3 separate regions of the Homo sapiens genome follow, and regions 1 and 3 are each linked to region 2. The links come from fine-mapping of genetic effects on gene expression. A gene starts in region 2. Each other region holds a variant in brackets. All regions are shown on one strand. Distances are from middle to middle.

Region 1 (8,181 bases), 55 kb after region 2:
CCTGGGAGAGGAGCAGAGCCACAGAGAGGTAGGAAGTTGAGGCAGAGCAAAGGGAAGGCTTCAGAGCTTAGGCCCGGTTCATCTCAGAAGTGTTTTCTAGGCCTGGGGCTGAAAGGAAGAGGGGTGGGGCAGCCTGGGACGGGAACTGCCTCTGTGGGCTCCCCACTCCCAGGGAGGGGCTCCATAAGCTTTGCTCCTGGGCTGGATCTTGAGAGGTGGGCAGGGTCTTCCCACCAGTGGCAGGGTGTGCAGTTGTGGTCCCAAGCCTTGGAGGGAATGGGGAATGGGCTGGCACCCGGCTCAGGGAAAGCAGAAGCAGACAGTGCCCCAGCAGGGGAGCTGCATGCCCCCAGGAGTCTCAGAAAGGCAGCCCATCACTAAGGCTGGATGCCTTTCAGCAGAGCTACAGCTGGAGCCCTCCGGCTGAGGCCAGCACTCGCCTGGGACTCCCTGGACCCCAGGGTTACTAACAGCAAAACCATTCCACACCCCCTTGCCAGATCTAAGCCTGTCTTAGGACCGTCAGTGCCCCCAGGTTAGAGCTCATGGGGGTCAACTAAGCGAGGGAGGGAAGGCGAAGGCAAAGCTGGCCTTGCACCTGGACAGCGGCCTGGCTCCTCCCCACACCTGCCTTCATTTATGACTCTGAAACATCCCCCACCTGACCAAGGGAGCCACTCTCCAGTTCTCTCACTCCACCAGGGCCCTCCGTGAGCCAGGACCAGGTCACATCTCTCAGCCAAGTCTAGAAGCTCTGGCTAGAGGAGAGGAAGCGTGCAGAGGGTCCTCTGCCAAAGCTCCCTGCCTGGCCCGAGCCCGGGCATGCTGGGATTAGTGCAACACCGCCCCAGTGTGCCTCCTCTGCCTTCTATCATGCCAGTTTAAAAGCAAGAAGACTCCCCCTTCACATCCTGAGGAAATCCCCTTCCTGGTGACCAACTGATGCAATGAAAGTTTGAAAAGTTCTTCATTTTCTAGAAGTTCTTGAATAAACATGGACTTACTAAATGCAGAGTCTGATGATGGACAGAGTTTCAAGGGGTCACTTTCAAAACATTTAATTAATTTATTTATGTAGAGACAGGGTCTCGCTCTGTCGCCCAGGCTGGAGTGCAGTGGTACAACCTCAGCTCACTGCAACCTCTGCCACCTCCCAGGTTCAAGCGATTCTCATGCTTCAGCCTCCTGAGTAGCTGGGATTACAGGCATGAGCCACCACGCCCAGCCATTTTCAAAACACTGCTCCTGCATACAAACCACTCAGAGGCCACTGCCCTTGGTTCTGTGATGGCTCTGAGCCCATGCCATCACATCTGATGGACCCCAGAGAGCTGAGCCGTGGTTTAAGATGGGGTCATGCGCTGGTCATTCCCACAGTCTTGAGTATCTCCAAAATCCCAAAGTGATATTTCACTTTCGGACCCTGAAAGTTTGGAGAGCTGGTTTCTTGCCTTAATTTAAGCTCTCTGAGAATGTCCCCTGTAGGGAGAAGCCTCCAGGAACTCAGAATAGAACTCGTTCCCACTCATTTTCCTTGCTCCACCAATCTGACGCCTGACAGATGTCACCACTGCCTGAAGGATCCTGTCCCCAGGCCAGGGCAGAATGGGCATTGCCTTTGACTCTCCCCTTCAGACTCCCCTCCCACCGGCCTCCTGTGTAGTCAGAGAACCCACTGCCCATCGCCTCCTGCTGCTGCTTTGAGGTTGAGGTCCTGGCTTGAGCAGTTACCTTGCTGGAGAAGAGGAGCCCCTGCCATCTGGGGAGCACTGTCCCTGCTCGTGATCTGTAACAGTGGGGCGCTTTTTCACACCCCTTATCTCACGGCTTGCTTCCAGCCCCCATCAATCCTGTGCCTCATGTGAGGTGAGCCCCAGAGAAACTTAAATTGCTTGTACTGAAGTTGCCAAAAACCAAAAGTTGCCCGTTGTCATTTTTAAGACTGTGCCCTGAACACACCTCTGCCCATGCGCCATGGAGCATGTGTTAGGTGCCTGCCGTGGGTCAGGCACTTGATTCTCAAAACACTGCCGAGAAGCTCTTACCAACGTGACAGTTGAGGCTGAGAGAGGTTCATGAGCTTGCTCAAGGCCACGGGTAGTAATAAGAGGCATGGCCTTGGTGCCAAGTGCCTCCCAAACAAACAGCCGGGGCCGTGGTCCTGCCTAAACTCTCACATCCACGGCACCACGCTGGGCCCAGGCAACAGAGATAAGGAGAGCCCTGGCTCTTGGGATGGGGTCGCGCCGATTCACATGCTGTGCCACGGAGCCCCGGCTTCCATCCATGATGTGCCCCTGTGGCGGGATAATTGGGAAACAACCTTTTTCTGATTCCCAGAGAACTAATGAGCTGCAAAAAGAGATTAGACAGGGAAGAATTGCTTTCGGGGAGAAGCCACTTACTCGGCTCGCCTTGGTTTTTGCTAACAACGTCTCCTTAAACTGCTGTCAAATCTTTTTCTCCCTGTGTAGGATTCATCAATCTTCGTATGCAAAAGAACACCACTGCACTGCACTGCTAAAAATTCACACAATAAAATGGACTTTAACTTGCAGAGCTCTTTCTCATTTTAAATGGACGGCCACTAGTTGCCCGTTTAAACTCATTGCCAGTTGTAGAAACCTTGTCCTTCTTGGTTTTGTTAGCCTAAAAATGTAGTATCAACATCTAGACTGGTTTCGAGGTGGGAGAATGGGCAAAGGTGGGGAGGAGAGAGCCGGATAGGGGCAGCTGCAACCAGGTGTTGGCAGGCAGAGCAGGCGGCAGTTGCGGAAGCTATGGGCAGCATGGGTTCTCACACTAAGTCATTCATGCCACCCCCAAATAACTTCTGTACATTCTTTAATGTCAAATATTCAGAACCCACATTACCTATGTAATGAGTAACTTTAAAAATATCTACTTCAGGGGGCCCTTGGACTAGCATTCTGCTGCCAGGGCATACATTTGCAAAAGGATCGTTCTTGCTTAACAGTGGGAAAGGGGCAGAGGAGTCTGTGATATCTAATGTTGGCAAAGGATCTCAGGATCTTTCGAGAGAAGTCCCAAAGTTTCTGTTGAAAATGTCCTTAGCAGTAGAGGATGTAAGATTGGATTCTCTTCTGCTCTGGTCACCCAATGGCAATATCGAAGAGCCAATATTTACTGAAAATCCCTCAGGTACACCATACTGAAAGGATAAAGTGGCTCACCAGGGCTCTGATTCAAAATGAGAAGCAGTATTTCCAGTTGGGAAAGGCAGAACAGCTCTGATGTGTGTGGGGGCATTTCCCACATCTGGCCCCATGGCCCACCCACAGTAACCAGGCATCAGCAAATCTGTGCGTGGGACTTGGGCCAAAAGCACGTGCTGAGCCTCAAATTCAGCCATGAGCAAAACTACCTGATGACTCTGAGGGTGAATTGCCTTCAGGGTGGGAAAGACCCATGCAAAGGCCAGGAGCTCTGGGGATGGCCCTTGCCTGGGGATTGCACTACAATTACTGCTCAGTGTCAGAATGGAGACATGAGGTCAGGAGAAACGATGAATCTGTGAATTTGCACATTTGTCAGTCAAGCTCGGATTGCAATTTGAGGAAGGAGAACTAGACATATAATCTAATAAAAGCAACAATCTGAATGTTACCCTTAGAAAACCCACTCAGGGCCGGCCGGGCACGGTGGCTCATGCCCGTAATCCCAGCATTTTGGGAGGCCGAGGTGGGCGGATCACAAGGTCAGGAGATCGAGACCATCCTGGCTAACACGGTGAAACCCCGCTGCTACTAAAAATACAAAAAAAATCAGCGGGGCGTGGTGGCGGGCGCCTGTAGTCCCAGCTACTCAGGAGGCTGAGGCAGGAGAATGGCATGAACCCAGGAGGCGGAGCTTGCAGTGAGCCGAGATCACGTCACTGCACTCCAGACTGGATGACAGAGCGAGACTCCGTCTCAAAAAAAAAGAAAACAAAGAAAAAATGAAGAGAAAACCCACCCAGGCCCAGAAGATGCGCTCTGCCGGTTCCAGTCAGAAGAAGACCAACGCCAACGCATGCAGAGCAGATGTCTCCTTAGGCCTTGTTAGATCCCAGCAATAAAGCGTGCTGACTTTCTTATGGTAAATAAATGTCTAGGAAGGAGTTTTGAAAACAGAAACATTGCTGACTTTTTCTCTAAGTGAGTATTTATGTTGACTCAGAAGTTGTTATTCAAATAACCTTGGCTCACTTGGTGGAGGCAAAAATCCTACATCCCAGAGGAGAAATTACTGAGAATTGGGCACATTAACATATACTTTGAGCTTCATTTTTCTACCAAGTAAGCAAAAGTGTAAGTGGAGAGATCCTCGGCTGTGCTGG[G/A]TGAGGCTGCAGCAGTGAGCGAGGACGAGGTGACGTGTAGGTTGACTGAGGACTCGTGTGTGTGCACCCACTGGATGCCACATTCCAAATCACCTCTTTTATTTATTTATTTATTTTTTTTGAGACAGAGTCTTGCTCTGTTGCCCAGGCTGGAGTGCAATGGCACAATCTTGGCTCACTGCAACCCCTGCCTCCTAAGTTCAAGCGATTCTCCTGCCTCAGCCTCCCGAGTAGCTGGGATTATAGGTGCCCGCCACCATGCCCAGCTAATTTTTTGTATTTTTAGTAGAGGTAGGGTTTCCTCATGTTGGCCAGGCTGGTCTTGAGCTCCTGACCTCAGGTGATCCACCCACCTTGGCCTCCCAAAGTGCTAGGATTACAGGCGTGAGCCACCACGCCCAGCCCCCAAATCACCTGTTAGATAAACATGCTCATGGAAGAGACTGCAACCAGCCCTGTGTGATCTGAAGCGTCCAGGGAGTAACTGTTTCTTTGCCTCACCATGTAGTTACCTGGGGAAGTGGGAAGGCGTGACCACTCAGGAATGCACCCACCTTCTCTCTCCTTACAGAGGAGAGCCCGCTGGTTCTGGTTCATGGAAACAGCTAAGAAAGGGGGAAAAGCATTTACTGAACCCAGACTGTGCCCTGATGGATGAGAATGTGGCTGTTTAATCTCCTGGTGTCTTTCCCATTCAGTAAGTGCACTGGGAGAGGCTTCACACTCCTCCTCTTCAGATGAAGCACCCCATGGACACACCCTGTCTTCAAATATTAGATAAAATCTTGCAGGGAAGCTGCTCCTGTTTAGGTCTCCCAGAACCCCACAGCAGCAGCAGTACCTGGACATTAGTCCAGGAGCTGATCATCCTGATCATTCCCTTTGGAATCGGTGGAGCTTTGCAGGGCATTCCAACAACCATCTCACTGTGATAAAGGATTAAAATGACATCTCAGAAGACACAGAGCCAACTCCACACAACGTCCAAAGGGTCTCTGACTTTTCATTACTTCAATTTTCCCACACATCCATTATTCAGCAAACATTTAATGAGCACCTACTATGTGCCCAGAGCAGGAAGAGGCACTGCACACTCAGCAGTGATAAGACTGTCTTAGTCCACTGGGGCTGCATTACAAAAATACCTTAGAGTGGGTAATTTATAAAGAACAGAGACTTCCTGCTCACAGTTCTGAAGGCTGGGAAGTCCAAGATCAAGATCAGGCCGCCAGCAGATTGGGTGTCTGGTGAGGGCCTGTTCCTCACAGATGGTGCCTTACATGTGTCCTCACTTGGCGGAAGGGGCCAACAGGCTCCCTGAAGCCTCTTCCATAAGGGCACTCATCCATCACGAGGATCCTCTTCCCACGACCTCATCACTGCCCAAAGGCCCCGCCTCCTAATGTCGTTACCTAAGGGGTTAGGTTTCAACAAAGGAATTTTAAGGGGACATAAATATTTAGACCATAGCAGAGACAATATGATCTCTTGCCCTCATGAAATTTTCTGTCTGGTGGGGACGGGGAGAGACACAGACAGAAAAAATACACAAATCAAAGAATTACAGTTCGCAATAAGGGCTATGAGGGAAACTAACAGGGGGCTGAGGTCAGGAACAGCAGGGCTGCCCCTGGGGAGGCCACAGGGACTGAGGCTGTAGGGGGCCTGGAAGCTGGACTTGAAACAGGAGCAGGAATGAGCTCCTCCGGCAAGGGCTCTGGGGGATCAGCCGTGTGTGAAGGTCCTGGGGTGGAAGGCGCAGCTGTATCCAAAGAACTGAAAAAAGCCCAGGGAAGCAGCAGCCTTGGGGAGGGGGAGCAGGGAGTCAGCCCACGCCTGGCTGGGAGCTAGGGCTGAATTCAGATCTCATGCCAAGTTCAGGGGAAAGCACACCAGGGGGCTTATCCGGGGCGACCCGCTGTGAGTCCAACCTGAGATGGTGTGACCCGTCCTTTCTCCTGTAGGTCACGGGTCATCAGCCACATTGGGGCACGGTCTGACAGCTCTATCTGGCTGTCCTCAACCCTGTCCTTTAAGGTCTAAAAGCCACAGGTCAATCTAAGTTCTTTTCATAAATATTTCCAAGTTGTAAACCCAGGAGTATTTCTGAGCCATCCTGGACAAATCCCTCCTAAGTATTATTGCACATGCCCTCTGTGTCAGAAGCTGGTCAGACTGTTCGAGGACCCTTCCCAGGGTCAGGGTCCATGGCCAATATCACTTGCTCCATTTCTCGCCTGCCTGCACCTGGGGAATGAGCTCAGCCACCCGCCTACGTGGGGTGCCAGGCGGCATGCAGACTCCTTACCAACGTGGAGAAGGCTTCCAGCTCACAGCCCTGACCTTGAGAGCTGCTTCCACATCCATTTCAATAGGCAGCATCTGAAAGAGAAAACCAGTCTCTTTTCAAGGCCCTTAAAGTGTTCATCTTGAAAGGGAAATTGCATTTTGCAAAGCACTGCTCATGCATCTGACATTTGTACATCTGGAAAACTGGGATTGCTTTATGTGGCGCCCAGTGAAATCCAGCTCCCCCTCTGCCTCCCACCCTCTCCCTTTCATGATCCTCTTCCCAGCTCCAATCCTGGACTCCCTGGGCCCTGGCCTCTGCCTGCAGCCCTCCTACCTTCTATGCATAATGCCCCATTTCCCAGCCATGTTAACCATCTTCCTCCGTGTATGAAAATCAGATTGTGGCCGGGTGCAGTGTCTCATGCATGTCATCCCAGCACTTTGGGAGGCCAAGGCAGGCAGATCATGAGGTCAGGAGATCGAGACCATCCTGACCAACATGGTGAAACCCCGTCTCTACTAAAATACAAAAAATTAGCCAGGCATGGTGGCACACGCCTGTAGTCCCAGCTACTCGGAAGGCTGAGGCAGGGGAATCACTTGAACGTGGAAGGCGGAGGTTGCAGTGAGCTGAGATCGCGCCACTGCACTCCTGGATGACAGAACAAGACTCCATCTCAAAAAAAAAAAAAAAAAAGAAAGAAAGAAAAGAAATCAGATTGTTCCTTTAAAAAAACAAAAACCGGCAAACAGACAAAACCCTTTCAGGGTGGAGGGATTTGGGAGCTGATTCTTTTCATGTACAATGAGGGTGTTCCTAGACGCCTTTCCAGGCCATCTTTTTAGGCTAGATGTACACTCAGCAAACATTTGCCAAGCCCCTTCTGTGTCCCAAGCACCCCACCAGGACCTGGGGAAACAAAGCTGACTCAGTCCCTGCCCTTTGGGAGCCTGCAGCCGAGCTGGAAGGAGGGTTCTGCGCTGATTGCTCTGATTCATTGCATAGAATAATTTTTGTTTGTTTAGAAACATCATTCTATTTTATAAAGACAAATGTCCACATTGTTGGACAAGAACCAAGAACCAGGTTCTTGGACAAGAGGCAAGAACTGGGTAAAAACACATGGACACATTCATTAAAAAAAAAAATAGTGAAAGAAGAGACTAAACATGCAGGTGTTGTCAACAAAAGCAATGATTTGCCATCAGGTCAGCATTTATGATTTACACGTTTAAAATCTGCCATCAAAAGACAGTGCCAATTCCAGGCAAAACCTTCATCCTCTCCGCAGCTAGGGCTTGCAGAGCGCGCTCTGTAGGAGACTTCCCCTGAATCTCGGGAACCAGCCGTGCCCAGCACCCTGCCGGGGGCCTTCCTCGCCGCCTCTGTGCGCAGAGGTCTGTCTGCGGAGAGCTATTCTGGATCTCCTGAGGGTTTCCACTGGGCTCCTCCAGGCTACAGCACAGGCATCCCTCTTTCTTAGGTTACAGTGAACACAGTTCCCAAGATGTCTTTCATGCTCCAAGTTTTAAAAAAAGAAACAGAAATG
Region 2 (8,181 bases):
AGTTTTTGAGAAGCAACTCCTTAGGGCAGAACATCTTTGGATCCTCAATAGTTTTGAAGCGACCTGTTCTCTGCACTATTTTTGGTTTCTTTCTGCTATTTTTCTAAAAAGAATCCAGGAGTTTCATGTGTAAGAGCATCGTTCTTTTTTCCGTTTGCTCACAGATTCTGACGAGGCAATGGCAAGAAAGGCTGACACTTTGCACATCCTTCACAATCTTCTGCAAGGATGGCTTAGAATCGTCCTGCGTGGAGGAAGGAACAACCTTTGACCTTAAGGTAACTTAAGGTTTGACCTTAAGGTTTATTACTGACTTTTCTTTTTCTTTTTTCTTTTTCTCTCTTTTTTTTTTTTTTTTTTTTTTTTTTTGAGACAAAGTCTCACCCTATCACCCAGGCTTGAGGAGTGCAGTGGCACGATCTCAGCTCACTGCAACCTCCGCCTCCCGGGTTCAAGCAATTCTCATGCCTCAGCCCCCTGAGAAGCTGGGACTACAGGTGTGTGCCACCATGCCTGGCTAATTTTCAAATTTTTAGACAGATGAGGTTTTTCCATGTTGGCCAGGCTGGTCTTGAAATCTTGACCTCAGATGAGCCTCAGCCACCAAAAGTGCTGGGATTACAGGTGTAAGCCACTGCACCAGGCCTATTGTTGACTTTTCTAGGGGTCTATCTTTTATATGTCTCTACACTAATTTTTTTCTTCAGCATTTTTTGAAGATGTTTGTTTTTGTTGTTTTCTTTTTCCAATTTCTGCACACCCTGCTTGTTCATGATGATTTCTGAACCACATAATCGAGCCAACCACTTTTTGCTATTTCACAGCAGTACTAATACTATTCCTGAACCATATATATTTCAGGAGAAAGAGCAGATTGGGAAAGCCTAGGCCCTTTTCTGTATACTTTTGGCTTGAGCCTAGGTCATCACAGTCTTGAATGTGGGAGGGTGAGTGGAAGGAAAAGGGTCTGTGCCATTCAAAGTGTGCTCTTTTTGCGGACTTTGGGAGTCTCTGGCTCCTGTTTCAGAGCTCCACTTCATCCTCGCCTGTCCCCATCACTCTCTGCAGCTGATTGGCCACCAGACTTTGTGTCTTCTCCCTCTTGGTAATCTCCTCCCTGATTACCCGGCCGTGGTCTTACCCTACTCTAGTCCACCTTGCACTGTGCAGGCAGAGCAACTCTTCCACAATGTAAATAAGATCTTACCCCGGTTCTCACCACCTTCCGGACACTGCCCAAGTTCCTCAGCATCACATACTAGGTCCTTCATCGTGGCACCCTGCAGCTTCCCTCACCCCTCCCCTGGCCACCCACCCTCAGCCACACCAGCCTGGTATTCCCTGTGTAAGTCATGCTCTCTCTCATTCTTGCATATTTTTGTAAATGCCATTTCCTTGTTCTAGAATGTTCTTCCCCCTGCCTCCAGTAGGCCCCTTCCTGCCCACCCAGCGCATTTAGGATCATGCTTCCATGAGGTCCTCTGTAGGAAAAGTATGATGTACTTTTCTGTGCAGGCAGCGATGATACTATGAGCTACATTTCTGTGTCACAGTCCCCACTCATCAGGTATCTCTCCCATTAGCGTGTGAGAGCCTGTTTCCATGCACATAGCCCCTAGCCCAAGTACCTGCCCTCTAGAGCAAAGCATTTCCCAAGCCATTCAGTGGTTTCCCAGGACCTAGCATCCAAAACACAATGAGTTCTAATTACAAGCTTGTTGAAAGGCAAATGAAGAAAAAAACCTGTATGTATAATAATAATAGTCATGAGAAAGACAAGAATGAAGAGAAGAAAGACAATAGTCATCACTGGCATCTTAAATTATGGAGCCAAGGGGAGAAACATTTGGGTCACCCTCAGGATCAAACTGCCAGGCCAGAAGCAATTCCACTGAGAGGGCACCAGGAAGCCTTCAATGCATGGAAACCCTGGAGCAAGTAAAAGGCAAAGCATGTGAGTCACAGCTGAATCCCTGGACAATCACTGAGCTGTGACAAGGTGCAGGGTAGACTCATAACCTAGCACAGAAAAACACATTACTGAGGAAAGGAAAAGAACGTGAATGGGGAATTTTGAGACTTAGCTCTTCACAGAAAAGCATGCTTGGCAATTACAAACTTCTTATATTAAAAAAAATCAGGCAAACCAAAAGTCATTAAAGCATTAAAGATTAAGACCCACTCACAAGGAATTCACATACTCTGCTTCTTTACAAGGGCAGTCTTGCACCTACACTGACTTGGTGCACCTCCTTACACAGAAGAAATCCACCTTCATGACTTGAGTATAAAAAAATGCTTTTCTGATGGCCCATACGTTCCCAGATATCTCCACCCCATCATGCTCTTAAAAGCTGAAGCTGACTTAGTGAGAATCCATTTACACTAAACAGTGTAGAGTAAGACAACACAAGCCAAGCCCATGACTGAAGGGAGCCCACAAAGACTGGGCAGCTCCTCCAATGTAACCGAAGATTCAACCAAAGATTCTAACTGCCCTCCAGCCCCAGGGCTACGGAATGGCCCAGGGAAGGCAGCGTGCAGCTCGCAACTAATAATCCAGGTACAACCAGCAGATCAAAAGCATCCAGTGAGTGGCTCTGCCAAGTCCCTGTCCATAAAAGGTCCATAGCACAATCACTATGTTTTGCTCCATTTTGTAAGCCCAGCTAAAAGGAGAAAAATTCAATCATTTTTCCTAAAGATTGCTGGTTGCGAAAGACCAACTCCTTTTAAGCGTCTATGCACCAAATCTGTAAGATACAGATATTGGGAGAAGGGGCTCCATACCTGTTCAGAGCAGAGATAAACAGTTGGCATTCACTGGTATAGAGCAATTGTCACAACAGTCATTAGGAAGCTGAACAAATGTTGAGAAATCCAAATGTATCCATTCAGAATGGTGCAAAATTCCTATAAAGTCCTACATCAGAAAATGAAAGAAAGACATTTGGGTGAAGGTAATCAAAATGTCTGGCTAACTCTTGCCTTTTCCTGATATATGTTTTCCATAATAGACCCCACTAGCACCTTGATCCTCTACCTTAAAGATGGAAACGGCTTGGCAGAGGTTGTGTTACTAGGCAAGGTCTTGCTACAATTGAAAGGATGCCACCAGAGATGAAAACCCTACATACATCTCTGCCACCAAAAGAAGACTTTGGAATCAGGCATGATGCAACCAAAGATTCTTACTGCCCTCCAGCCCCAGGGCTGCGGAGTGACCCAGGGAAGGCAAGATGCAGCACACAGCTAATAATCCACATGTAACCAGCACACCAAAAGCATCCAGTGAGTGAGTTAAAACCATGCTTCTATCTATCCCCCAGGAGTGGACAGACAAGTCTGCCTAGATTTGAGGCGGGGAAAAGAGGTCTAAATTTTCACAAGAATTAACTTCTTTTTCCTACAAAGAGACAATGAGGTGTTTCTCCTCTTACCTCATGGATTGCTGGAGTAAATGTAGAAACAAAAACTCATTTTCTTGGTCTCCAAGAAAGCAACCAGATTCTCGATGTGAGCAAGTCCCTGCACCTTTGATGCAAGAGTTTGGATATGCTAGGTGAGGGTACCCGAGGCCCTGTTGATTTTATGAGTCTGTGGGCCAGCTCAGACCGGCTGCCAACTCATCTGTATGCAACAGTTCTCAAAGAACATAGTTTACTTTATAACCGGATCCAACAAGAGTAGGCGTGGCAGTTAAGTGAGTGAGATACCAAAGGTGTTGAGCTACCAAGGCTAACTAAGAAGGATTTGTTTATGGAACCCTGGCTTGGAACCAGAAGGCCGGTATGCTCATGTCGATGTGTCTAAGTCAAAGGCATGAAGTTGAACACGTGCGCACATGAGGCTGGATGTTACAGGGCAGGGAAGTAGGGGTCCCCAAGGAGCCCCTCACAAATGTCTCCTGTCCTGTGAATCACTCAGTGGCCCTAGAACAGCAGTCCCCAACCTTTTTGGCACCAGGGACCAGTTTCATGGGAGACATTTTTTCCATGGACCAGGGAGGTGGTGGGGGAGGATGGTTTCGAGATGATTCAAACACATGACATTTATTGTGAACTTTGTTTCTACTGTGTTTACTTATAATAATTACTTTACTTCTATTATATTCTATTATATTCCTTATTTCATTATATATTATATTCTAATATATAATGAAATAATATTCTATTACATTATATAATATTCTATTCTATTCTATAATATTATAGAATGAAATAATGAATATGGGATGAAATAATGAAATATTCTATTCTATTATAGAAGGAAATAATATTCTATTCTATTCTATGAAATAATATTCTATTATATTCCTTATTTCATTATGTATTATATTCTAATATATAATATAATATATATTATGTATTATATTCTAATATATTATATAACATATATTATGTATTATATTCTAATATACTCTATAACATATATTCTGTATTATATTCTAATATATTATATAACATATATTCTGTATTATATTCTAATATATTATATAACATATATTCTGTATTATATTCTAATATATAATATATATTCTGTATTATATTCTAATATATAATATATATTATGTATTATATTCTAATATATAATATATATTCTGTATTATATTCTAATATATAATATAATATATATTATGTATTATATTCTAATATATTATATAACATATATTACGTATTATATTCTAATATGTTATATAATATATATTACGTATTATATTCTAATATATTATATAACATATATTACGTATTATATTCTAATATATTATATAACATATATTACGTATTATATTCTAATATATTATATAACATATATTACGTATTATATTCTAATATATTATATAACATATATTACGTATTATATTCTAAATATTATATAACATATATTACATATTATATTCTAAATATTATATAACATATATTACGTATTATATTCTAATATATCATATAATATATATTATGTATTATATTCTAATATATAATGAAATAATTATACAACACCACCATAATGTCGAATCAGTGGGAGCCCTGAGCTTGTTTTCTTGCAACTAGACAGTCCCATCTGGGGGTGATGGGAGACAGTGACAGATCATCAGGCGTTAGATTCTCATAAGGAGCGCACAGCCTAGATCCCTCGAATGCGCAGTTCACAAAAGGGTTCAGGATCCTGTGAGAATGTAATGCCGCTGCTGATCTGACAGGAAGCGGAGCTCAGGCAGTAATGTGAGCCATAGGGAGTGGTCAAAATACAAATGAAGCTTTGCTCACCTACCACTCACCTCCTTCTGTGCAGCCTGGTTCCTAGCAGGCCACAGACCAGGTGTGGGGACTCCTGCCCTAGAAGGTCAGGCTGACCTGACTTTCTCTTGGCCATTCACCAGCCACCCTGGTCCCGGGGCAATGCAGAACTTTACATCACAGACTTTGCACTTCAGTGGTGGGGTTGAGACCCTGCTCTACCAACTGCAAGTTACCTAGCTTCTCACCTCAGAAGTCTACAGTGGGAAGCTCAAGAGATAGCATATGTAATACACTTGTCATTGAATGAACAGGGTTGAAATCCAACCTACTCCGAGTGTCAGCCTTCTGTCTTCCTCCTCAGCCCACCCCCTAGGGCCATCTCCCACTAGGAGACTGAGGGAGAGGAGTCCTTACCCCACACCCCTCCTGAGTTGCTCTCTTCCCACTGTTCCTCACACTTCACAGCTGGTAATCACTTGAAGCATTGATTGGGTTCGCAAGAAGCAAGAGTGGGTGACTGTGGGCTGGCCACATGCCCCTTCACTGCCTGTCCCCTCCTCCACTCAACACCACACAAGATTGTAGGAGGGATCAACCTCAGCTCAAGAGTCAAAGAGATGAGAAGCATCAGAGCAGCAGCGTAGCTTGGAGACCATACACCAGGTTCCTGACACCAGTCCCCGGGGCAGGACAGCTGAGTCTCCATGATGCTCAGAGAAGGGATAAAATGGAAACAGATGCAAAATTTCACGGAAAAGGCACTTTTGCTTTCAAACATTTATAAGCATAACCAGTCATTACAGATAAGGAAAAAGAACATAGTAGGTTGCTATGGTCTGAATGTGTCTCACAAAATTTATATATTGAAACATAATCCCCATGAGATAGTTTTAAGAGGCAGGGCCTTTAGGAGGTGATTAAGTCATCAGGTAGAGCCCTTCCAGATGGGGTTAGGGCCCTTATCAAAGGGCTCGAGGGAGGAGGTTCATTCTCTTCTGCTGTGAGGACACAGTGTTTGTCCTCTTTCTGCCCGTCTGCCTTCCACCATGTGATGCAGTGGTCAAGGCCTCAGCAGACATCAAACCTGCCTGTGCCTTGGTCTTGGACTTCCAGCCTCCATAACTCTCTGTGGTTTATAAATTACCCAGCCTCAGATATTTTGTTACAGCAGCCCAGACAGAACAAGACACAGGTGTAAGTGAAGCCACTTGCAGAAGGGTTCCCATGCGAAGTGAGGTGGGAGGAGACCCACACTAAGGAGCTACAACATGGTGGGGGAAAGAGCAACAGGCGGGGAGTCCACGCTCCTGCTAAATCTGGCCTTCTCCCTTCACAGGTGGCCTCCTGTGGTCACGCCTGTCCCTGCTGCTGCTTGCCGTCCTTGGGTTCACCCCCTCTGTCCACAGGCCCTCCCTTCTGCACCCCTCACTGCGTGGCCCTCTACCTACCTTTGCAGGCCTCCCAATCCCCCCAGTGGGATATTCCCAAGCCTCAGGTTCACCCAACCCTACCCCTGAGCAGGCCTGGGTGTGGAGGCCAGGAGAACACGCCCTGCAGCCCAACGAAACGCAGGGAGAGGAAGTGTCCAAGGCCAAAGGGGCTGCACTCTGAAGGGACTGAGCACAGGAGGACATGAAGGGAGGCAGTCCCCGGGAGAGGTGGGCTCCTCCAAGGGTGCCTTTGGCTGGAGCACTCTTGCACGGCCGTGGAATCTTCCTTAGACTCCATGGCAGTCTAGGATGCATCCTCCCAACCTGCTCTCCCTCCTCCCCTCAGGGTCTGCCCTGAGTCCTGGTCTGAAAACTCCTCAGACAGCCTCCCTCTGACTTTCCTCACCTGGGCATCTCCTCCAACAAAATCTTGGCATTTTTAATCCCCTCTTGGCATCTGCTTCTCAGAGGCCCTGGACTGGTGCATGAGGCTCTTCAGATGGGATGTGAACTGTCAGAGAGCTTGGCAGGAGGCCCTTTGGAGTCCCACAGAACAACTCAGGAAAGGGGGCTTCCCTGACCCAATGTCCAGCGTGGAGGCCCTAGGGGGCAGGCATTCTGAGCCTCCCCACCTGTGTGGGCTGAAGGCGTGTCTTTGACTCTTGTGATCCAGCAGACAGCTGTGGAAATACAAACACATACAGAGAAACATGTGTCTCCCCCAGGTAAGCATTCATCCTCACAGAATAAACCCCAAACAGGGAGAAGTGTTTTTTAACTACTTCATTCATTTGCAAGGCAGGTACCTTTTGCACAATGGAGCCAGAATGTCTCATTATTATGCAGACCAGGGAGTTATCTTACCTTCATCCCCCACTCCTTGCCCCCAATCTTCAAAACTGGGCCCTTTTGGACCTGCTGGGAATGAGAAAGAGGACTGTTGCTAAGCAACAGGGAGGGCAGGGGATGCATTCTCCCTGTTCCACAAATCCTAGTCTTAAAGCACAAATGATAGCGTTTGCCCTGATGGAATCCTACACCTTCCAGTACCCCAGCGGGATGCACTCTCAGTCCTTCCGCCTTACCACTGTCTTCACGGAGAAATTCCGTTCCTGCTGTGGCGCCTGGCAACTGCTTCACTACCTCTGTAGCCATGAGACAGCCTGAGTCCTCCATGGTGGGATTGTGTGTGACAATGAGAAGACAGCCCAACTCCTCTTTCCCTGATGCAGTCCGGCCCCTCTGTGCTGTGTAGCCTCACCAGGTTCCCAACACTGATGAGGTTACACGCCCAGCATTTACTCCTCAGACTGGACCTGGAGCATCCCGCCGCTGGACCTGAGTGAAGACCAGAGTCAACAGACGGTTTTCTCTTTCTCTTAAAGAAGTTTGGAACATTTGAAACATATTATCCTATTCATGACTAATATTCCAACAGGAGTCATTCAGATAAACAAAAAGCCTTTCCAGGTGCTTGTCTGATTTAGAGGAAGGCAGCACATTCCCATTCA
Region 3 (8,181 bases), 34 kb after region 2:
TTCTTTTCCAAAATTGTTTTATCTATTCTAGTTGCTTTCCCTTTTCACATAAGTTTTAGAATAATTTTATCTATATCTATAAAAAATCTTGTGAGATTTTGATAGAAATTGCATTGAATCTGTATATGAATTCAGAGAGAATCAACGTTTTTACTATATTGAGTCTTCCAATCCATGAATACAGTATGTTTCTCCATTTATTTGCTATTCTTCAGTTTCTTTCTTTGGCATTTTGTAATTGTCAGCAGTTCTTTTTGCTCTGCCATGAACTAATTGTGTCGCCTTGGACATTAGTCTTTCAGACCTTCAGTTCTCTTTCTGTAAAATGTGTCTAATAACACCTACCTTGAAATGCCATGGGAAAGTCAAATAAGTTAGCGCATGAGCAGTGCCCCATGGCAAGCGCCAAGATGCAGTTCCCTTCAGCTGGGTCTCTCATCTGTTCTTTGTTTCCTCCTCCTCAGCTTTCGTTCTAATGCCCACATCCACTTACACTTCACTTTGTCTTTCCTTTTTGTCCTTTGCTTTTTTAAATCCTTCTTTCATTCTCAACTCCTTACTCTGATTTTTCTATTTCTTTCTTTCTTTCTTTTTTTTAGACAGAGTCTCACTCTGTCACCCAGGCTGGAGTTCAGTGGCGCAATCTCGGCTCACTGCCAACCTCTGCTGTCTGCGATTCTCATACCTTAGCCTCCCGAATAGCTGGGACTACAGGAACTCACCACCACGCCCAGCTCATTTTTTTTGTATTTTTAGTAGAGATGGAGTTTCACCATGTTCGCTACGCTGTTCTCGAACTCCTGACCCCAGGTAATCCGCCTGCCTTGGCCTCCCACAGTTCTGGGATTACAGGCGTGAGCCGCCGTGCCTGGCCTTTCCTATTTCTTTCACTTTGTTTTTCTCTTATTCTCAATGGATTTTTCTGTTTCATTTCTTACCCCATGATATTTGTCTATCTCCTCTTTCTTGAATCATTTAAGCATTCCATTTTTGTGGAGTTGCTCAGACACTGAGTGTGAGTCAAGGGCCACTCAGCCTGGGTTCAACTCCAGATCAACCACTTACTAGATTTGGGGCAGTTGACTCACCCTCCTGCACCTCAGTTTTCTCATCTATAAAATGGGGAGAACAGTATCTACCTGGTACCTTTTCTGAAATGATTAAATGAGTTTATACATGTAAAGCATTTGGAATAAAATTGGGTATATGGTACAGCCCCAGTAGGTGACGATAATTACTGGGATTTTACCTGTTATGTCCAGTTTCTGTGGCTCTTTCTCACATTTACCATCCCTCACCATCTCATCCTTTTCACTTGTATATGAATATATTCAAACTCACATTATCTTGCTTTCAGGCTGTTGTCTCTGTGCACTTCTACCTCATCTTCCCTAATCATCACTGATAAATTGGCACCAGCCCAGGAAATCTGTCCCTTGGGTTATAGACAGGAAACAAGTGGTTTTTCATTTTGATTTAATTATTAATCCCTTTTATTATTTAATGTGGAATACATACACTGTGGGGTTACAATGAAGAAAATGGATTATCACTGTGCGGCTCACTTTCAAAGAGATGGCAGGCTTAAAAAGGAAAAGTACCAGACAGACAGAAACAAACGTGGGGAAAAAGCAAAATTAATTAATTTGATTTCCGTGCCCTTTTCATGGCCATGACTTTTCATACATCTTCTGTGAGATCCAGGAGGATGCATGTGGATTTTGCAAGTAAGCCAAGCGAGGTATTAAAGGGAAGGGGTGTAAGGAGTGGCGAGTGGCCCACAGTGGCTCACCAGGGAGGGCAGAAAAATATTCATCCTAAGCAAATGGGAGCCTGGCAGGTTGGGAAACTCAGTCACAAGCTCACGGGCCTGCTCCATACGTACAGTCCTCAATAATGGGCTTGGTCTGTGATGCAAAGCTACCTGAAAGGCACTCACCTATCACTAACCCTTTCGAATCTATATTCCATACCTTGAATCGGGCCTAATATCTGCCCTTTAAAAAATTGCTGAATATATTTAGACTCACTTAGATACACTGGGCAGAGGGATATTTTAAATACCATCAAAATGGTCTTTTTGTCTCTGTATTTTCTCCAAAGAATTGAACTCCCCAAGCAAAATGCCAGATCTGCCTGCGCTCCTTTCAGACTAGAATTCTGTCTCCCTTTAAAGATCCTTACATGAAACACCATTTAATCCTTCTCTCTCTGCCTTTTTGTGTTTATGGTGACCTCTCAGTATTTTGGTTTCTTTAATGACAAAGTAACCATGGAATTAGTCCACAGCATTTCTAGGGTACGTGTTTCTCTCCAGATATCAAAAAATAATGCATGAGGTTTTATTACTTCCTTAGGCTTGTGGTGGGGAATCCTCCAAGGATGGAGTTAAAATGAACAGCCAATACTCTCTCGCTCCTCTGGGCTACCCGAGGCTCTGCAGGCCCCAAACTCACCTTCTGTTGCCCCATTCAGCACCAGCCACCCCCCTTTGTTGTGCAGCCAGAAGCCAGGGCCGCCTGGCAGGCCTATTGCTAAATCTCCCAGTGTTTGTATTACATAAAACTTCACAGTCGGTGTTTCTGTGTCTACAATGCCAGAATCCTGGAAATGAGTTAACCCAAATTTGTGTGCCTTCTGGCAAGCCCAACTATCCAACTACAAAAGGGGACTAATGTGATAGGATTCTCCTGAGCCAACACAGGAGTTGAAAGAGCCCAACAGAGGTGCAAACTGCCATTATGATTCCATGATAATAATTCCACATACTAGGAATACCGGGATTATTTCAGACCTTATATCTGCTCTTAACCTATACCAATCCAATCCAGGGGGGCCAAGTACATTATACCAGTATTTGGTAGGATAGAATTTTTCCTGATAAAATGGCAGAGATGTCATGAACATTAGGATTTCCACAAATATTTCTATTTCTTATATAGGAAAGAGACCCAGGGTGGTAACCTGTAGAGTAACATGTAATGTGGAGCATAGGATGTGGCCAGGAGAGTCAGGGTTATGATTCAGAACCAAGATGGCTGGACTCAAATGGGTGTGAAGTAGGAGGGTGGGAAAGCGTGGGTTCTGAAGTCAGGCCGCTGTCAGTTCAAACCCAGGTTCTGCTGCTTGCAAGCCATGTGGTCTCTGGCAAGTTCCCTCCCTGCTCTGAATCTCAGTCTCCTGATCTGAATAATGGACACATTACACTTATTCCACAGTGTTGCTGAGCTGATCAAGTGTGTTAACACGTGTAAGGCACCCAGTCCAGAGTAGTGCACGCAAACACACACACACACACTTCACTTCCAGAGCTGTTCTGCAAAGAAAAACCAAAAGGCAGTACAAGCTGCTGCAGGCAATGAATTGATGACGTGTTTAAAACAAAAGCAAAAAGAGTGCAAAGGCCATGGAGAATGCGGCACAGACAGGAAAGATGCTCCCTAAAGAGCTTGCCCAGGTCAGGATGTCTCCGAGCAAAACGAGGGACACTGAGTGACTCTGGGAGCAACCTCAGTCCTGCATCCTCGTCAACACCCTGACTGTTCTCAACAATAATCCCACCCATGTGGGGAGCTCCCCTTTGAGGGACTGAGGCAGCCCAGAAAGGAGGCACAGGATGTACTGAGAAGGGGAAACCTGGGCGTCAGTGACAGCTCCCCAGGGATGGTGGGTCTGAGCAACGCTGATGCAGCGGAGCCCCTCACCCACCTGAGATGCCTCGTCCGCCTTCCCAGCAGCTCCCTTCCGCAGAGTGCTTAACAGCTTGGCAATCAGAGAACGCTGTGTGCACGGACAGCTCCGCGGGGATGAAGTGTCCCATCTGACAAAGACTGTTCTGAGATCCGCGCTGTCCCTGCCTGGCTCTGCGTTTCACTGAAAGCCCCTTGCCCTGATTCTAGCCCTCAGCCCCCACGCACAGCCACCGGCGACTCTAGCCACCCTGGATAGTAAAGGTGCCCTTTCTGGGGCATTCTGCTTCGAGAAGAGGCGGAAGAGCTGTGCATGCCTGGAGCCCCTGGGAGCCCATGACAGCCAGGAGCATCCTGGGCATAAAAATCAGCACCTGGGGCCTCATTCCACTCATCTCGCACACCTCTGCAGTCCCTTCCACGATGCCCTCACCGCTGGTAATCAGCATCCATTACATCGGCGCCAGGAACCAGCTCAGGAGGCCACCTGATCCGCCCTCCTGTCCCTCCAGCCCTCCTCTGGAAGGACTCAGCGCTTGCAGTCAGACATCTCTCCCCATTGAGACCATTTTTACTGTTGGTGAACTGGAGGACTATCGCACTGCCCAAGACACTGTTCTCTGCAGCAGGTTTGCACAGGGTGCCAGTTAGGGAGGAGAAGGCAGCGAGGAACCCCGCACTTTAAGGAACAGGGATGTCATAGCAGCCGTCTGCATGGGGGAGGGGGCTGGGGAGCACAGGGCTATTGGCAAGGAGACAGGGCTAGTTAGGACCACCGGAACCAGGCTGATGGGCACTGAGGGGGTAGCCCAGGCGGCCCTCTCTACTATCATGGGCCTTGCAGATTGAGTTCTCCTCTTCCTGCCGGGCCGCCTGCCTTTGTTGTCCTGAGGACTGACAGGTAATGTTTGTGGCAGACCTGTTGGTGCAAACAGGGAGGCTGTGAGAGGAATTCAGTGGCACTACCACAACTCTTAACAGCACTCTCAGCCTAACTCACAACGCAGCCCAACATGTCCATGGGCAGAAAAGGCCTCTCTCCGACTCCCTAGCCCAGAAATACGAACCGGCAGCTGACAGACTGAATCTGACTCACACATAGATTCTCTATGGCTTGCTCACTTTTTCAAAAATTGTTGAATTAGTGGTCAACATGGAAAAAAAATTTCATCTTCAAAAGTTTAATTTCTGGCTTTTCTGGAAAAAGCAAAGGGAGGATCTTGCAGTACTGGCTCCACGGCATGGCAAGGCAATAATGAACTAGA[G/C]CCGAGTAGCAGCTGCCGCTTTAGAACTGCGTGTGTGTACAGCTCACCACAGTCCCCACCACCCCCTACCATGTCCCCCAAACCCAGGGCAAGTTTTGGTTGCATTTATCATGGGTTTGTATATGTGCTTTTCCTAAAATAAAGAGAATGCAACATTTTAAATGTTTCTCTACATCAAAATATGAAAATGAAGCTCTAAGACATCCCATTTAAATAAAAATAGGAGAAAGCCTACTAATTGCACGTGACCAAGAAGGATGTAGAGTGTGTCTGTGTTGGAAGAACGCGATCCGGCAGCTGCACTCACCTCACACAGCCACAGCCGTGGGTGTAGACGGCAGAGCTCAGCACAGACTCACAGGTTCTGGTTACTATGGCATGCACATCCTGCCCAGCTGAGAAATTCCAGAGTGAGGAGGTGTTACCCTCACTCCTGACAGAGGCAGACCTGCCTTAGATGAAGGAGAATCCAGTGAAGGGGTGTTAAGAATGAAATCAGTGGCTGCTAGTTAGTGGTCTTGTTTCTACTGCGGGGGCCGTTGTCCAAGCAGACCTTCAGAGAGTGACGGGGCACTCTTGGTGATGATGCCAGAATGACAGGTGTTACCTGGGATGCATGGACATCTTATTTCCTGGGAGCAATCAGGGACCTCTGGGGGCAAGTATTGTGCTTAGAAACACCGAGGAGCAGCTGTTAGATGAGTAGGGAGCATGCTGGAGGGGAGCAGGAGGGAGAGGGAGAACACAGCCCTGGCTGGCGGGAAGTGACCCGAGCTGCCGGGCAGCTTGTGCACAGCGGACCACATGGCAGGAAATCATGAGTTCCTTCCCTGGTGCTCCCCCCGGGACTCAGAACAACCCCATCACACCCAGAGGGCTCAGGAGGAACCAACCTCCCAGGCAGCGGTGGCTGCACTTAGAGCCTTTGGAATCAGACAAAACCTAGCCCGCTGCTTAGTAACTGTGTGGCCTGAAGCAAGCTACCACATCACTCTGCTTTTGTGACCTGTAAAATGAGGCGACTAAAACGGACTTAATAGATCTGTTTCAGGATTAAATGATACAATGCATGAAAAACACTCAGCACAAAGATGGCACAGAACAGGGATTCCATGCTGGAGCTATTATTACTGTTTGCTCCCCTGTTCTCAGGCCCACAAGGCTCTGCCACCTCACCCTGCTCACTGGACGCCTTCCTCACCAGGGCCTTCCTGACTCTTCCTCGCCCACCCCAGACAAGCCAAATTCAGGACTGCACCCTGGCCTCTCTCTCACTCTCTACTGCACTGATTTTTTTTGCCTGTGTACTCCCCACCAGACCAGGAACTCCTTGCGGACAGAGAACGCATCAAGGGTCGTCAATCTCATTACCTGTTGGAGTCACCTGGGGCCAGATTCTGGGACTAGGCATCAGCACGTTGTCCAGCTCCCAGCTGATGGCAGCGTGCGTCCAGGGCGGAGAGGTCGTGCTACTCAGGTGTGCACTGAGGACCAGCCGCGTCAACATCACTGCGGCTTCTTAGCAAAACCGCGGACTCTGGAAACCCCAGACCTACAGAATCAGAACCCGCATTTTAGCCAGATCCCCAGGAAGGGAAAGCACAGGAACGAATGCCAGTGAAGTGTGAGTCGACCTCCTTCTATCCCCAGAGCTCAACATAATTCAAACACCCAGTGGGTGTTGAGTGGGGGTTCGCTGACTAATTGACTGAGTGAGTGAAGCCCTGTGTCAGCTTCCACTGGGATTTCACACCTACTCCATCATGTGCTATGAAACAAACAGGCTCAAAAAGCAAACCCGTAAAACGTTCAGAAATTCAAAAATAGACACAGACCTAAGTTGATAGAACAAATAGCTGCAAAATGGTGCGGTTTTTAAATGAAATACCTGACGGGTTTTTAAAGATTTATTACCACCGGGCTCTGTGCCATTAAACCTCCGAGTACACTAGAGGATAATTTTGTTTTGTTTTAAGGTTGGTAATTGTGAAAAGCTGGGAAACCAGGACTGGCCCCTGGGAGGATCCTGTCCACCGGTGTGGCTTGGGCACAGTCTCTGGGTGGCTGGGGCCGCTGGCCCGCCCTTCCTCCAGGAAGAGAGACCCGCTGGCGGGGAGTCCCCGGCACTGCCAACGGCCTCCCCACGCCCGTTCCCTGGGGACAGGGCCTCTGTCTCCCCTCCGCAGGCCCCTCCTGGCTCTCACCCTCCCACCCCGCATCCCCCAGCCCCGCCTCCTCCGCAGCCGCAGAGCTGCAGCTGGCCAGGGGGCCACACCCAGGCGTCGAGCACCGCCTTATCCAGCCGCACTGGGGGCTTCGTCCCCTGCGGGGTGAGGGGTCTCCCCTGTGTCACCCTCCGAGGCCACGCTAGACGTTGTGGCGCTCAGGGCTCCCGGTTCCTGCCGCGCTGGGGCTCCCCCGTCCCAGCCTCCCTCCCCACCTCTCCCAGGCTCCCCTCCCCTGTCGCAGCCACCCTCCCCCGTCCCAACCTCCTCCCCTTCTCTCGCACGATCCGGCCAAGAGATGGCGGGGTGGCGGGAGGGGCGCTCTGGCGACCCCGGAAGCGAGAAGCAGGCCTCTGCAGGGCCAGGGATGAAGGTGCAAGGGAAAGCCCTGGGACCTGGACCTTAGGCGTGGGAGGGACGAAAGGGAAAGGTCTTAGAAAATTCCTCAGGCGTGGCTTCTGGGGGGGCGGGGCGGGGGGAGGAAAGGGGCACGGGTTCCCGGTCTCGTAGACGCTGCAGCGGAGCAGAGCCTCTAGGCATGCCCTCATCTAGAGCAGCTGCTGCGGAATCCGGGGAGCCTGCAGCACTAGCCGTGCGATTCCGGGCGAGGTTTTTAAACTCTCACCTGTTTTCCCCTTTTGTAAACTGAAGATAATGCCTCTCTCCCGGGAGTGGGAGCACGATGCTGACACACCGTAGGAACTCGGGACTTGCTGATTCTCCTTCCTTATCCTCAAGGCGTTTGAAGCACTCCTGCCCCTCACCCCCACCCCTCCAGCCCCTTTCCCAGCCCTGCCCCCTGGTGGAAAATCCTAAGAGCTACCTCTCAGGAGGGCTCCTGTAAACCAGGCACTGTACACACACCTTTCATTTCATCTTCGCAGCAGCTCTTTTTGGTGAGTACTGTTATCCCCATTTTGCAAATAAAGCAACGGAAGCTTAGAGAAGTAACTTTTCCAAATGTGCCTCAGCTCCAGGCAAAATAGGAACCTAGGTCATCTG

Evidence for each region.
Region 1: its variant is fine-mapped to the expression of KCNJ1 in sun-exposed skin (GTEx, PIP 0.98).
Region 3: its variant is fine-mapped to the expression of KCNJ1 in unexposed skin (GTEx, PIP above 0.99). The same link has a PIP of 0.9 or more in lung.

What each region holds. Positions count from the first base shown.
Region 1 is chr11:128,918,607-128,926,787 of GRCh38, forward strand. KCNJ5 (potassium inwardly rectifying channel subfamily J member 5) reads left to right here. Exons shown (of 3, transcript NM_000890.5): 3 at 1-2,557. Among named protein-coding and RNA genes, the nearest start is that of KCNJ5-AS1, 16 kb to the left of the region's middle. RefSeq lists an enhancer at 7,782-8,181. The variant G/A (reference allele first, on the strand shown) is at 4,340.
Region 2 is chr11:128,863,733-128,871,913 of GRCh38, forward strand. It overlaps KCNJ1 (potassium inwardly rectifying channel subfamily J member 1), which reads right to left and starts at 3,564. Exons shown (of 3, transcript NM_153766.3): 1 at 3,441-3,564. LOC107984409 (a long non-coding RNA gene) reads left to right here. Exons shown (of 3, transcript XR_001748442.2): 2 at 165-278; 3 at 3,018-3,447. RefSeq lists an enhancer at 7,103-7,865.
Region 3 is chr11:128,898,106-128,906,286 of GRCh38, forward strand. The region is part of intron 1 of KCNJ5 (potassium inwardly rectifying channel subfamily J member 5); the gene reads left to right. It overlaps KCNJ5-AS1 (KCNJ5 antisense RNA 1), which reads right to left and starts at 8,126. Exons shown (of 4, transcript NR_045767.1): 1 at 8,044-8,126; 2 at 6,326-6,506; 3 at 5,262-5,406; 4 at 1,460-4,608. RefSeq lists an enhancer at 3,525-4,283 and a silencer at 6,991-7,060. The variant G/C (reference allele first, on the strand shown) is at 4,955.